3 linked regions of the Homo sapiens genome follow. The protein of the gene in region 3 purifies or fractionates together with the protein of the main gene of each other region. This does not show direct contact. Each region holds a gene or a part of one and is shown on either strand. Other genes may lie near its edges.

The links.
Region 1: the proteins of CCDC174 (region 3) and BPIFA2 purify together in Homo sapiens (affinity purification with mass spectrometry; one large-scale study listed by BioGRID and IntAct). This does not show direct contact.
Region 2: the proteins of CCDC174 (region 3) and LZIC fractionate together in Homo sapiens (co-fractionation; one large-scale study listed by BioGRID). This does not show direct contact.

The regions. Positions count from the first base shown.
Region 1 is NC_000020.11:33,173,740-33,178,941, reverse strand, and holds part of BPIFA2 (BPI fold-containing family A member 2 precursor), read right to left. Parts: intron 4,864-5,202; coding exon 4,756-4,863; intron 3,536-4,755; coding exon 3,383-3,535; intron 796-3,382; coding exon 714-795; intron 1-713. UniProt on the Homo sapiens protein: Has strong antibacterial activity against P.aeruginosa.
Region 2 is NC_000001.11:9,936,109-9,941,310, reverse strand, and holds part of LZIC (protein LZIC), read left to right. Parts: intron 1-4,683; coding exon of another isoform or gene 4,684-4,691; coding exon 4,692-4,792; intron 4,793-5,202.
Region 3 is NC_000003.12:14,650,221-14,656,006, reverse strand, and holds the start of CCDC174 (coiled-coil domain-containing protein 174), read right to left. Parts: upstream 4,246-5,786; 5' UTR 4,171-4,245; coding exon 4,129-4,170; exon of another isoform or gene 3,886-4,128; intron 1,582-3,885; coding exon 1,477-1,581; intron 479-1,476; coding exon 378-478; intron 1-377. UniProt on the Homo sapiens protein: Probably involved in neuronal development.

The DNA.
Region 1 (5,202 bases), on a different chromosome or scaffold from region 3:
AGAGCGGAGTATCTCTTGCTCCTGTGTGTACACAGTTCCCCGCAGATTGCAATTCAGCAGGTCTGGGGTGTGGCCTGAGATTCCGCATTCCTATCAAGCACCCAGCTGAGGCTGAAGCTGGTGGAGGATCGCTTTTGGAATATAACTAAACTCCGGTTCAGTGGGTCACAGAGCCATCCGGAGGATTTTTCTTTTATAAACCCACATTCCTGGGTCTGCTTCCAGAATGACTGATTTAGAATCTCTGCAACTTTGGGCCTAGTAATCCTGCACATGGTACCTATGGTTTTGGATGATGCACAGATGGAAAAAAAATTAAAACTATTTTATAAGTCCATTGATTGTATGATATGTGATATTAATTTTCTATTTATGATAGGGATATAAAGTTTTATTTTTAAAAATAAATGCTTCTAAAGAAACATATTTAAGTAAAATTGTGTTGAAGATGTTAGCTACAAAAGCATATTGGTAGTGCGTGGATATGGTGAGAGGCTCAAGTTTGGGACCTGGCAATTTCAGCTAATGTCAGGCCTCTGCTCTACCCTGCTACCCACCAGGCTGATTAGTAGAGGAGGAAGCTCCAGCTGACCTCCTAAGGAGAAGCTTTCACCTCCGAAGGAAAAGTGCTCAGAGGATACAGCCAGGCCTGCAAATTCCCCCACCTGCCCCCACCAGGCCTGGATCTGGGCTCCAAGGAGTGGGAGACTCACCTCCTTCTGCAGCAGGGAGGATACAGTGCTTTTCAGCGTGTTGATCACGCTATTCACGAACTTGTTGATGATTTGGCTGTGTCTGGAAAACACAGGGAACTATTAAAGTCTGGTCAAGTGGGCAAGAGATGGGAGAACTGCCAAAAAGTTGGGGGCGGTGCGGGAAATACTGTGGAGTCAGATAAACCCCAGGGACATGGAGACACTTTAACAGACAGAGCCTCCCATCCACATGGATCATCACTTAGACTCCCACATCTGACCAGCGGCTCACCCCAGTGCCTCATGAGATTCTCAGCGCAGAGACCTTATTCGTTCACTCATTCAACCCGTATTTACAGAGCACCAGCTATGCACCAGGAACCTAGCTGGGCCCTGAGGATACCGAATAAGTAAAGTACAAACATCCCCTAACCTGGTACCTAAACATTAAGGGTCCAAACATACCCTGATGTGGTACCTAAACAAATCTTGCCAAAGTTGGCTCCTCCCACCTTCAACTCTTAGTATAATTGCCACCTCCTCAGGGCACCCCTCCCTGACTGCTTACCTAAGAGAGAGCTTTGCTATCACAGTGCCCAGTTAAGGGTAATGCTTTCTGCAGGACTCATTTCCCTGGAGCGTTCTTTACCGATGGACTGAATTTGGGTTGGATTGGATCCAAAGTGCAAAGAAAAGCGCTGAGAGGATTTGGAGCTGTAGAGTGGTGTCATTTCACAGATGTGGACACAGATCCACGGCAGCTTAGCTTTCCCTTGGGTAAGCTCCGCAAGAACAGGGACCTTGTCTGTCATCACCAATCAGTTCTCCAGAGCCCAGAATGGTGCCTGCCTGGCACACAGCAGATGCTCAATACACTTTTTTTTTTTTTTTTGAGACAATGTCTTGCTCTGTCACCCAGACTGGAGTGCAGTGGCACGATCTCGGCTCACTGCAACCTCTGCCTCCTGGGTTCAAGCAATGCTTGTGCCTCAGCGTCCCGAGTAGCTGGGATTACAGGAAACCGCCACCACCCCCGGCTAATTTTTGTATTTTTAGTAGAGACAGGATTTTGCCATGTTGGCCAAGCTGGTCTTGAACTCCTGACCTCAAGTGATCCACCCACCTCAGCCTCCCAAAGTGCTGGGATTACCGGTGTGGAGCCATCGTGCCCAGCCTCAATACATTTTTGGCTGAAAGAATGAAAGAAGTGAACATACAATTAAATATATATTGAGAACTTGTGACGAGTGCTTTAAAGGCAAGAGTTAGACTCTTACGAGAGAGAATAGGAGGAGCCCTGGGAAGGCCCTGAAGGATGCAAAAGTCCATCAAAGTGGAGTGAGAAGAAGGTGCTCTAGGTAGCCAGAGCACCCCAGGCAAAGGTCTTAAGCTGGGAAAGAGCCTTGAGAAACAGCCTATCTGAGACATGGCACAAAGGCCACTGTATCTGGGCACAGTGAGTAAGGGGAGGGTACAGGGATACAAGGGTGGGGCCAGATCAAACAGAGCCTTCATGACCATGGGGAGCACTTGGGATTGAACCACAAGTGCAAAGAAAGACCCTGGGAGGATCTGGAGCCTCAGAGTGGTGCCATCTCACAGATGTGGGCACAGACCTAGTGCAGCAGGATGGCGTCCCTGAGGCTACTTGGGAAGATAGCACCCAGCCAGGCTCCAGCCTCTGAATTTACACCCCGGCCTTCGCAACTCACATCAGGCTATGGAAACTTTCTTTGGTTTTCAGGGGTCTTTGAGCAACCTGTGTTCAGATCCCTCAGTGCAGGGCGAGTGGAGTGTCCTCTGCTCATGGCCACAGGGGCTGAGAGCTGAGGACCCAGCCTTGCTCCTGGCCAAGGCCAAGTAGCCCCAGCCCTCAGCTTCTGGGTCATTCATCCTCTCCCAGCCATCGGCCAGCATCACTCTTTCTCCTTCCACCCTCTTGCCTGAGTCAAACCTGCTCTTTCAGGCACAGAGCTTAAGATGTAGATTTTGTGGATTAAAAGGGATCAGTGAGTCAAATGGAGAGGATTAAGTTTTCAAGATCTCCTTTCAGGAAATTTCCACTGGGTGGAGGATGATTTGGGGACAATCTGAAATTAGAGCCCGTGGCAGGCACTTACTCTCCCCTCTCCCTCCCAACTGGAGGCAAGAAGGTAAATATAATTTTATCGTTATTATTATTATTATTATTGAGGGACATTACATAACAATAAAGTGGACAATTCTCCAAGAAGTCATAACAATCCTAATGTGCATGCACCTAACAACAGAGCTCCAAAGGGTATGAAGCAGAAACTGACCGAGTTGAAAGGCGAAATGAACAAATCCATGATTATGGTGGGGAGCTCAACACTCCAGTCTCAGTAATGGAGAGAACCAGCAGGCAGAGAGGCAGCATGTTCCAGGCTGCGTGCTAAATATTTGTATTTTCTCATCTGGTCATCTCAGAAGCCTATGAGTAGTTATTATGAACACCCCCAGTTTACAGATGTGAAAACAGGCCTGGGTCAAGTTGGTGATAAAGTTACAAGTTAGTGGCAGAGCTGATGTGTAAACCAAGGTCAACATGACTCCAGAGCCTGAACACTTTCACCACTAGGCCTCCTCTTAGGTAGAGGACTAGAGCTGAAATTAGGGGTCCTCAAGTTCCCTGAGAGCCCAGCTCTACTAAGATGAATGGGACTTACTTGTCCAGCAAGGAAAGTGAGATGCTGGTTGGGTCACTGGCGCATTCTCCCAGGACGGCAACAGGCTGGTGTGTCTGGGGATCAGTTTCAATTGTGACTGCGGTCAGGAGGTCCAAGGAGGCTTTCAGGTTGATAATCTGGCCAATGATGGGCCTGCAGGAAGTAAGATGCACAGTGAACAAAGTCTAGAAGTTCCTGCCTGTTGCCCAGTTGGGTTCCTCCACCTGTGTGGACATGAGTCAGAATGTCTATGTGTAATGTCAACATGGCCCAGGTAATATCAACATGGTCCATATCCTCTATGAGATTTACATGTTTATATTAGGGGCTTCTTCTCCTGGCCACTTGGGTTTAGCTCATATGAATTTTTTATACAACATTACACTAATAAGTAAAATAATAATAGTTAACATTTATTGACAACAATTTATGTGTAGGTACTTTAAAAAAGTATTTTACCTGGATTCATTTATTACTATCCCTATTTTCTGAATGAGGAAACCTTGGTACAGAGAGGTTAAGTAACTATCCCAAGATCTCATAGCTAAATAATGGGTGGCATCATTAGTGCATGTAGTTTACAGAAGTGCTTTCACACATGCTCATTTCTTGTCTATCTCCTTTAAAATTAAAATTTTTTATTTTTTGTGAGACAGGGTCTCACTCTGTCGCCCAGGCTGGAATGCAGTGGTGCAATCACGGCTCACTGCAGCCTCGACCTCTCCGGCTCAAGCAATCCTCTTGCCTCAGCCTCCCAAGTAGCTGGGACTACAGGCGTGTGCTGCCACACCTGGTTAATTTTTGTATTTTTTGTAGAGACAGGGTTTTGTCATATTGTCCTGGCTGGTCACGAACTCCTGAGCTCAAGCAATCCTCCCACCTCAGTTTCTCAAATTGCTGGGATTACAGGTATAAGCCACCACTCCCAGCTAAACTTAAAAGAGTTTAAACTTATATTTTGCACACACACACTTTATTATACACTGTGTATTATTGTATGAATTTTTCTGTAGTGGTCACTGCAACTTAGAGAGAATCTTGAGGGACAAAATAATGCTGGAGGAAATTTTGCCAAAGAATGATAAATGTTTGTTATCTCAACTTTTCAAATTTTAAAACCAGATAAATGTCATGATTTCAAAACTATATTCAATGGAGCATTGTTTTTAAAAGACACTTGCTTATGGCCAGAGTTCTCTAGAACATTTTAAGGGTTAAGATCTTAGACCCAGAAGGGTTCTCTCACTCACAGATTGGGAAACTGAGGCCCAAGTTCACCCAGCAGCGGGAGGAGGTGCCCGATTCCCAGGTTGGGCATCCATCGGCCAGGTTGCACTGCCTTTCCCAAATCTCAGATTCTAGTGCATACTCACCCGGCCACAGTGACATTCGCGGTGACAGGGAAGCTCAGGTTAAGGCCTTTGCCATCATCGATCGGTTCAGCTTTGACATCCAGGATGAGGGAGTTGCTGATTTTCAACCTGTGTGAAACCCACAATTCACCCTTGTCACTCCTCATGACAGCCACTTGCCAACCACTTCCCTGGGCCAGCCTCGAGCTGAGCGTTTGGGTCTCGTCAGCCTTGCCTTCTTTAGTCTTCACTATAGCCCTGTTCAGAGGTTTGATTCTCTGTATTTTATGGCACAGCACACTGAGGCTCAGGCTGGTGTGATTTTCCCCCAGATTCCTAGGGGAGTAAGTGCCAGAGGCAGATTTTGAGGCCAGAACTATCTGACTTTAAAAGTTCATGAGTGGGACCGGGCACGGTGACTCACGCCTGTAATCCCAGCACTTTGGGAGGCCAAGGCAGGCAGATCTC
Region 2 (5,202 bases), on a different chromosome or scaffold from region 3:
AGGCAGGAGAGTCACTTGAACCCAGGAGGCAGAGGTTGCAGTGAACCAAGATCATGCCACTGCACTCCACCTGGGTGACCGTGAGACGCCATCAAAAAAAAAAGAAAGAGGAAAGAAAGAACGAACGAACGAAAGAAAGAAAAGGTAAAATCCCTACTTAAATAATTCACAACCTAGTGATTGGGAGGAAATCAAGGAAGACCTTGTAGAGAAGGTGACACTTGAACTAGACTTTGAAGAATGAACTGGGCTTCATAGGTAGAAAAAAAAATGCAGGCTCAAAAAAGTGCATGACATTTTTGGAACAGCAAGTCATCCAGTGTGGTTAGACTGTAGGAAACTAACTCTGAAAAGACATTGTCAGTTACATCTTGGGTTTGCCTTGACTTTTACTGGAAAATTCCACAGACTTAAGAGAAAAATTAAAATGGACAATTTCCAGGAAAAATCCACTAAACTATTATACATAAGATGTAGCTACAATAAATTACACTTCTGGGTATAATACTTGTTTATGTTTGCATATCATTAATGATCATAGATGACTTATGCCAATTTTAATAGATTAGGTAGTAATTTTTTGTCATTATATTTAATTTTGAATATACTGTAAGAATCCTCTCCAATGAAGTACACATGTCAAATCATCTGGTAATGATTTCATTATGTGTAGGAAAATAAAACATGCTTTAATGCTGTGTGCGGTGGCTCACGCCTGTAACCCCAGCACTTTGGGAGGCCGAGGCGGGCGGATCACGAGGTCAGGAGATTGAGACCATCCTGGCTAACATGGTGAAACCCTGTCTCTACTAAAAAAAATATACAAAAACTAGGCCGGGTGCAGTGGCTCACGCCTGTAATCCCAGCACTTTGGGAGGCTGAGGTGGGCGGATCACGAGGTCAGGAGATCGAGACCATCCTGGCTAACACGATGAAACCCCGTCTCTACTAAAAAATACAAAAAAAATAAGCTGGGCGTGGTGGCGGGTGCCTATAGTCCTAGCTACTCGGGAGGCTGAGGCAGGAGAATGGTGTGAACCCGGGAGGCGGAGCTTGCAGTGAGCTGAGATTGCTCCACTGCACTCCAGCCTGGGCGACAGAGCAAGACTCTGTCTCAAAACAAACAAAAAACATGTTTTAATAAGTTACCTGGAAAGTTTTGTGGTTTGTTTTTTGTTTTTTGTTTTTTTTTGAGTAGGAGTCTCACTCTGTCTCCCAGGCTGGAGTGCAGTGTCACAATCTCAGCTCACTGCAACCTCTGCCTCCAAGGCTTGGATGATTCTCCCACCTCAGCCCGCCAAGTAGCTGGGACTACAAGCACACACCACCATGCCCAGCTAATATTTTAATTTATTGTAGAGACGGGGTTTCGCCGTGTCGGCCAGGCTGGTCTGTAACTCCTGGTCTCAAGTGATCTGCCTGCCTTAGCCTCCTAAAGTGCTGGGATTACAGGTGTGAGACACCATGCCTGGCCCCAGTCAATAGGATATTTAATGAAACTTGACATACTGATTGTTAAATTCATCTGGAAGAGAAAGTGCACAAGAAGAGCCAAGAATTTTGGGGAGGAGAAAACAATAAAGGCAAGTCATTATCAGTTATCGAGATATATCAGTGATAAAGCCATAATAATGTAAATAGCAAGAAATGTTGCCTGAGGGCTGGACACAGTGGCTCATGCCTGTAATCCCAGCATTTTAGGAGGCCAAGGCCAACATGGCGAAACACTGTCTCTACTAAAAATACCAAAAAAAAAAAAAAAAAAAAAGGCAGATGTGGTGGCACACCTGTAATCCTAGCTACTCAGGAGGCTGAGGCAGGAGAATCACTTGAGCCCAGGATGTGGAGGTTGCAGTGAGCTGAGATCACATCACTGCACTCCAGCCTACTGCACTCCAGCCTGGGTGACAGAGCGATACTCTGTGTCAAAAAAAAAAGAAAAAAAAAAAAGCCAAGTGGGGTGCCTCATGCCTGTAATCCTAGCACTTTGGGAGGCTGGGGTGAGTGGATCATTTGAGGTCAGGAGTTCAAGACCGACCTGGCCAATATGGCAAAACCACATTTCTACTAAAAATACAAAAATTAGCCGGACGTGGTGGCACGCACTCAAGAGGCTGAGGCAGGAGAATTGCTGAAACCCAGGAGGTGGAGGTTGCAGTGAGCCGAAATCGTGCCACCGCACTCCAGTCGGGGCGACAGAGCAAGACTCAGTCTAAAAAAAAAAGAAGTGATTCCTTAGGAACAGAAAATTATCAATGACTAGCCAATTGCCCTAATACCCTTTACTAGTCAGTCTTTTATTTATTAATCAATATGCCACCTTTATTGTAGACCAAATTCTCCTGGATCAATAAATAAAAGACTGATTAGTAAAGGGTGTTTTTGAAAGGAAAGTTAGACCCCTACTTCAAAGCATAACAAAAAATGTTGCAGGTGGCTTTTGTCTGCAGCTAGAAAACAAAAATTTGTAAAAGTCTTGAATATAAAGATGTATAAATCTTGAGATGGTTAGGGCCTGCCTTCATGGGTCACAAAACGAAGAAGATTTAAAGGAGAAGATAGATTTGTCTATTAAAAAATAATAATTTGCCATGACAAAAAAACATAAAATTTAGTCAGGAGACGAAATAATATTTGCAATTACAAAGGCTTCATTGCTTGATCTTAGGAGGTCAAAGCTGCATGAGCCATGATCATGCCACTGCACTCCAGCCTGGGTGACAGAGCAAGACCCTGTCTCAAAAAAGCCAAAGGCTTTGTATCCATGTTATAAATCAGTAAGAGAAAGATAACCCAGCAGAAAGATGGTCACATTTCCAAAGAAGAAATTCATATTAAAAGATGTTCATCAGCTGGGCTTGTGGGCTTACACCTATAATCCCAGCATTTTGGGAGGCTGAGGTGGGAGGATCTCTTGAGCCCAGTTCAAGACCAGCTTGGGCAACATGGGAGACCCCATCTCTACAAAAAAATAAATTAGCCAGGTGTGGTGGTGTGTGCCTGTGTTTGCAGCTACTCAGGAGGCAGAGGTGGGAAGATGGCTTGAGCTCGAGAGGTTGAGGCTATAGTGAGCTATGATTGTGCCACTGTGCTTCAGCCTAGGCAACAGAGTGAGACCCTATCTCAAAAAAAAGTTCATGCTCACAAGTAATTAGGTCAATATACATAAGACCAATAAGATAATATCTGGAGTGTTTGGGGCTATAATGATTCATTTTATAAAGCAAAGTCACATTTGATCTACATATATATATATATTTCCATTTACCAAATTTGTTTAGAGTAAGATAGACCAATAATGAAGACTTCTAATTAATATGTCAAGTCACATAAAGAGGACTTTCAGGTATTTTTGTGGGGTGTTATTACTATATGAGTTTAAACTTTTATATCTAAATTAAGATTTTCTTTGTTTAACTATCTTTCATATACCTGTAGCTTTTTTTTTTTTTTTTTTTTTTTTGAGTCAGGGTCTCGCTCTGTCAACCAGGCCAGAGTGGAGTGGCAAGATCATGGCTCACTGCAACCTCAAATTCCTGGGCTCAAGCAGTCCTCTCACCTAAGCCTCCTGAGTAGGTGGGACTAGAGGCATCCGCCACCATGCCTAGCTAAGATTGTCTATTCTTTGTAGAGATGAAGTCTCACTATATTGGCCAGGCTGGTCTCGAACTCCTGGGCTCAAGCAATCCTCCCACCTCAGGCTCCCAAAGTGTTGAGATTACAGACATGCGTGAGCCACTGCACCCAGCTGCCTTTTTTTTTTTCTGAAATGTAGTCTCACTCTGTTGCCCAAGCTGGAGTGCAGTGGCGTGATCTCAGCTCACTGCAACCTCTGCCTCCCAGGTTCAAGCAAGCCTGCTGCCTCAGCCTCCCAAATAGCTGGGACTACAGGTAATTTTTTTTTCTTTTTTTTTTTTTGAGCCTGAGTCTTGCTCTGTCGCCCAGGCAGGAGTGCAGTGGCGTGATCTCGGCTCACTGCAAGCTCTGCCTCCCGCGTTCACACCATTCTCCTGCCTCAGCCTCCCAAGTAGCTGGGACTACAGGCGCCTGCCACCACGCCTGCCTAATTTTTTATATTTTTAGGAGAGACGGGGTTTCACCGTGTTAGCCGGGATGGTCTCAATCTCCTGACTTCATGATCCGCCCACCTCAGCCTCCCAAAGTGCTGGGATTACAGGCGTGAGCACCGTGCCTGGCCTTTTTTTCTCTTTAGAGATGGGGTTTCCCCCATGTTGCTCAGGCTGGTCTTGAACTCCTGACCTCAGGTGATCCACCCACCTCGGCTTCCAAAAGTGCTGGGGTTACAGGCGTGAGCCACCACATCCGGCCTTTTTTGTATTTTTAGTAGAGATGGGGTTTCACCATGTTAGCCAGGATGGTCTTGATCTCCTGACCTTGTGATCCACCCGCCTCGGCCTCCCAAAGTGCTGGGATTACAGGCCTGAGCCACCGGCGCCTGGCCGCAGCTGCATATTTTTAATTGCACTAGGGACTGGGTGTGGTGGCTTATGCCTATAATCCCACCTCTTTGGTAGTCCAAGATGGGAGGGTCACTTTAGGCCAGATGTTCCGAGACCAGCCTGGGCAACATAGTGAGACTCTGTCTCTACAAAAAATAAAACTTAAAAAAATTGCACTGGTATGTTAATTTCATATGGTATGTGGGTTTATTGTTTCACATAGAGATTAAAATGGCTTCCAGAGGAAAGACAGAGACAAGCAAATTAAAGCAGAATTTAGAAGAACAGTTGGATAGACTCATGCAACAATTACAAGATCTGGAGGAATGCAGGTAAGAGTTTAATTGTATGTTGTTATGCTGGAAACTGGCGTTTTTTCTGCAGCTAGCTCCGTGGATGCAGGCCCATGTGTGATGATTCTGCATTCCCCTGTAGTGTTCTTTGCAGTGCTTTGTCTATTAGAGAAGTAAACTTATTGCAGGCTTTGGAGTCATAAAGGCTGGGAAATGAAAGTCATTCAGTTAACTACTAAGTGCATGTGAACTTGAGCAAAATACTTACCTTCCTTGAAGTAGAAATAACACCTACTTTGTCTTTAGTATTTAAATCAGTCCTACCTGCTGTCAGGCTAAGAAGGTACTACTTGAACTTCTGGCATGTAGTTTCAGCCTTACCTGCACAAAGGACCACAACAGTTCATTGCAGCTTTTTTTTTTTTTTTTGAGACAGAGTCTTGCTGTAT
Region 3 (5,786 bases):
AATATTAGAATGTTCTATGTACCCTTGAAGTTTTTCAAAATAAAAGGTGGGGGGGAAGTTTAGGGTTTCTAAATTCTAGTGTCATCCCACCTAGCCCACACCATGGGAAAACCTCTTAAAAATGTATTGATAATCTTAGTGTCTAACAAAGGCTGACAGCAAGAATGTTTCATCTTATAAACTGTGACTATGTTTTACCTTTTTATAAGACTACAGATATATCTGCAAATTATATTATTTTTAGAGTACTTAGAGCATTGGGCTAGAAGGATGTTAAAAATAAAATTTGTAAATCAAAAAGGACAAAATTTGAACTTCCATTTCTCTGCCTGGGTAGCCTCAAAGCTAACTATATTTACCAGAGCTTATAACTTTACCTTGCTTTGTCTAAAGTCTTCTGTTCTTCAATCTTCTGTTCAGCATCCTTCTCAGCTCGATTTGAAACGCCTACATTCTGTTTGCTCCAGATACTTGGTTTCTGGAGAATAATTTTAGAAGACAAAACAGAACCACATGATTGCCAAAAAATCTCTACTTGTGCATCAGGAAAAAAAAAAACAAAGGAGATCATGAGTTCTTATGAATCAATGGAGATAACTAGATAAGCTGTGTCCTACAAAGATACTGACTATACATGGCAAGCAGGAGCTAAAAAAAGAGCCCTCAATTATATAAATAACTTTTTTTTTTTTCTTTGAGACAGGATCTCACTCTGTCACCCAGGCTGGAGTGTGGTGGTGCGATCTCAGCTCACTGCAGCCTCAACATCCTGGGCTCAAGTGATCCTCCCACCTCAGCTTCCCAAGTAGCTGGGAATACAGGTGCGCACCACCATGCCTGACTAATTTTTTTTTGTAGAGACGGGGTTTTGCCATGTTGCTCAGGCGGGTCTCGAACTCCTGGGGTCAAGTGATCTGCCTGCCTCGGCCTTCCAAAGAGATGGGATTAGAGGCGTGGGAACCACGCCCAGCCTAAAGAGCTTCCTGAGTGCAGAATCACTTCCTACTATCTTTTATCTCCTGAATGATTACAACCTAAATCAAGATTAATGAAAATGTACATATTACAGAGAATTAGTAATACAAATAGTAGACACTATTACCTATAAAACTGGAAAAATTCACAGCTCTTATACACCCTGATATTTTCCGCTATATTCCTATATTATCTAATTGTTTATCTCTATTTGGATACCTAACACTTATAGAACCAGATAACCTTCCATCTGTTTATGAAATGTAAACAATCCACATTTTTCCAAAAGAAGTGCTAAAGAATTAGCACATTACTATGTACTTTTATATAATCTTACTAATTTCTATTTTAATAACATTTCATGCAGATGTTAAATACAAGATAGAGATTTTTCCTTAACATTTATGTGTACAGATACCACTGACAATTTTAAAACACTTAAATATGGTATAATTCTCCCATGTTTGGAACCAATGGAGATAATTAGATCTTATTTTTTACCTTGTTAGTTGTTTTTGGTTTTCCAAAAACTCCAGAATCTTTTAGAAGTTTTTCTTGTTTGAATTCTTCTTGCTTTCGGAAGAGTTCAGCCTTAAGATCTACCAACTAGAATGAAAGCAGTAAGTAAACAAAAATATTAAATTCCTGCAGGTGACTGGATTGCTAAATTATTATAATTTCCAAAGGAATATTTCAAGTTCCGCTAAATGGACAAATATGGCTAAAAAACTAAATGTTTAAGTAACTAAATGTTTAAATGTAGAATCCAGTACACAAATTAAGCTAAGTCATGTTTCATTCTACCTCTGCTGCAAATGCATTTTTACTCTGACTTTCAACACTCGAGGCTTTCCTTAGGCAAGGAGAAAGTGATAAAGCAAAATAAATTAATAAAGTCTGCATCTTTTAGTTTCAGATTAAACTTGCATTATTAAGCACCTTCTCTCTGACTAGCACTGCACTCATTTCATCATCACAACTTATTTCTACAGTGAAATGCTGTAGAAATAACGCTGAAGAGCAGAACATAAACATGAATTAGACATACTCTCTGCCTCAAAGAGCCTACAATGTAACAAGGAAAGTAATTTATACTACCAACAAAATAAAACAAATGACTCTAGAGTGGAAGAAAGTAGCACATAAGTTCAGATAACAGAGCATTTCCTTCTGAGCAGAGTGATCAGAGAAAGCTTAGAGCAGAGCCTTTAAAGACACATTATTTCAACAGCTAGAAATAAAATAGACTGGGTGAATTATAACAGCTCCACGTTTGACTTAATCCATTTCAAAAACCGTAAGCTTGGCTGAATCACACGGTTCAAGAACAGGAAAGAAGGCCAAGGCATAGGGAGTGGGGCAGTTGGGTGAATATTAGTACCTTTCCCTCAGCTACATTAATTACCCCTGCCTACTCTGCAAAAAAGGATATAACAACAGTTTCCTTTTTAATGGTCCAGGTACAGCTGCTTATATGGATGGGCATTTGTAAATCAGATACTTCATCACTGTCTTAATCATCAGATACTTAAAAAAATCACTTTATTTGTTAAGGAAGATAAAAATGGCTGGGTTCAATTTCCGTTTTGGAAGAAATCGATTTAAAAGGTAACCATTTAATAATGCAAAGGGCAGTTTCACTGCAGACCCTAATACTGGAAATTTTTAAAAACAAATGAAAAACTTCTACTTTTTCTTCTAAGCTTACTTAACCACACCAAATTTTCCAGCCACATATCTTCCTAGTCTACAACTGCCTTTAACTTTAAGAGATGCTCAAAAAAATGTAAATTCTCAAATAGCATTCTTATTACAATTACTGCTAACCTGTCAGTATAGGTTGGCTTTAATATTTATAGCTTTCTGGTTCCTGATCTTCAAACAAAATAATAACTGGTACCAATTTTAACCAATAATAGTTACCAATAATAACTAGTACTCAAATATTGGGACACCTATATGTTTTCCTTCCTACTCACTTTGTGTCCTAATACTCTGAAGTAAATTCAAGATTAAATCAAAGGTTGGGCAATTTGCTCTGATGATGAAAAGGCAGCAGCTTTGGAGTCAAGTAGAGTGAGTGAGAAAGGGTCTATCACTAAGATTTCTTCCCCCCGCCCCCCGCCCCTTAGACGGAGTTTCGCTCTTGTTGCCCAGGTTGGAGTGCAATTGCGCGATCTCGGCTCACCGCAACCTCCGCCTCCCCGGTTCAAGCGATTCTCCTGCCTCAGCTTCCCGAGTAGCTGGGATTACAGGCGTGCACCACCACGCCCGGCTAATTTTTTTATTTTTAGTAGAGACGGGGTTTCTCCATGTTGGTCAGACTGGTCTCAAACTCCCGACCTCAGGTGATCTGCCCGCCTCAGCCTCCCAAAGTGTTGGGATTACAGGCGTGAGTCACCGCGCCCGGCTATCACTAAGATTTCTGTCTGTAAGCTGGGGAAAGCTACTTCATCTTTCCAGGCCTCAATTTCATCATCCATAAAACGGAGATATTAATAGCACCTACCTCCTAAAGCCATTGGGAGGATTCAATGAGATAGTGCATATAAAGTGCTGGCACAAAATGTGTACTTAGAACAAGTTTTCTTTCTAGAGTAGCTGATGTAATAAATCTGCTTACATCCTTTCAGACCTCACAACTCCCTATGCCTGCATTAACAACTGTTTAGTTCCAGGGAGGGCACGCTGGACACTTTCGGGTCCTGCGAAATATGTCACACTCTAAAGTTCTGGGAGGACTTTGTGGGTCCCTGGATGGAGGAGAAACCAGGAAGAGGATATGTCTGCATAGCAAAAAGAAGCTAGGGTTCCTCCTGACTGTAAGGGAGAAGGCTGACGAGGTGCAGGTCCTTGTGGGCAGGGCAGAGGTGAGGCACGGAGTTTCCTAACCCACGGGACACCAGGTTCAGATCCGTGTCCGAGGGTTCTGGCCCGGGCGCATGTCAGAGGAGAGTAGCCCAATTCAGGGTCCTGTAAGAAAACTGAACCGGATCCCCGCCGGAGAAGAAAATCCAGTTCGGGGGTTCCTGTTTGAGGGGAGAGGTCAGGTCTCTGGGTCCCCGAGTGAAGAAACAAGCTAGGTCGACATTCTTGTCTGATGGAGACACGGTGAACCCGGAGCCCGTGGAGTTACCTCATACCCTCACTCACCGAGGAGGCCGTGACGTCCAAAGGCTTTTTCCTACGGTCCATGGTCGTGGCAGAGGGTCCCGGTCCAGGAAGGACCCTTTCTACCCGACACAGGCCTCGTAAGCCTACCTCCGTCGCAACCGGAAGTGTCTTCGACAGCGACACTGAGTTTGCGTGAGTTTGCGACGCGAGTTTGTCAGCTCAGCGCCATCTTGAGAAGGTCAGAGTGTGGTGCGTATTACGTTCACCATCATTTTGGAAAGGTCATAGAGTGCGGAGGTTGACGCTAACTGCTAAGGTCATCTTGAGGGCGGAAGGTAACAAGGATTGGTGTGGGCGCCATCTTGAGAAGGGCGGAATAAAGCTTTTGATTGCGATGGACGCCATATTGGGTGGGGCGGATGTGGGGTTGGCGACAAAGATAACGCCATCTTGGGGAAGGCTGACGCTTAAGTAAGTGAACTCGAGCGTCTCGGGAAAGGTGGATTGGGAGGACCGGAAGAATCTTAACTGCAATTCCAGGACCTGCTGCCTGGCACTTTTCACACGTTAAATAGTTGGTTCTTAAAAGAGCGTACGAGATAAGGATTATTATATTAATCTTAGTAGAAATAACAAGAATAATAGCTAACATTAATGTAGTGCTTATTATGGGCCACTTTACATATTTCAGCTCTTAAGAACGTGAACTCCTGGGCCGGGCGCGGTGGCTCACGCCTGTAATCCCAGCACTTTGGGAGGCTGAGGCGGGTGGATCAGGAGGTCAGGAGTTTGAGACCAGCCTGACCAACATGGTGAAACCCCGTCTCTGCTGAAAATACAAGAAAAAAAAAAAATTAGCCGAGCGTGGTGGTGCGCGCCTGTATTCCCAGCTACTCAGGAGGCTGAGGCAGAAGAATCGCTTGAACCTGGGAGGTGGAGGTTGCAGTGAGTCGAGATCAAAAAAAAAAAAAACAAAGAACACGTGAACTCGAAAGCTGACTTTCTGGGTTGGAATCGCTCTTCACGGCTTACTGCTTGTGTGACCTTGGGCAAGTTACTTAACTTCCGTGTGCCTCAGTTTCCAAAGGGGGATATAATTTTATTTACCTAATGGGTCTTAGTGAGGATTAGATGAGTTAAATGAGCTAGTCTTGATAAAAATGTTAATGATTATGGTAGACAGACCAATCACCCTCACCCCGACTCCCAGATGTCTACCTTCTAATCCCCAGAATCTGGGTATATGGTGACCTTTATATAGCAAAAGAGAATTGGCAGAGATGATGAAATTAAAGCGATTGAGATGGGGAGCTAGCCTGGATTGTGCAGGTGGGTCCCCTATCATCAAAACCATCCTTATAAGGGGTAGACAGGATGGCCAGAGTCAGACAGAGATCAGAGATGCTTTGAAGAGGGAGAGTGGGACCACATGCCTAGGTATGCAGGAGGCCGCTAGAAAAAGCAAAGAAATGAGCCCTCCTCCAGAGTCTCCAGAAGGAATGCAGCATTGCTGACACGGTGATTTTAGTCTTGTAACACTCATCTCAAACTTCTGACTTCCAGAACTCTACCAGAATACGTTTGTGTTGTTTTAAGCCACCAAACTTGTGGCAATTTGTTACAGCAGCAAGACGAAAGTGATCATAATGATTGTAACAGTGGCATTTAGTATATGTGGGGCATGTGTATGACTCTTT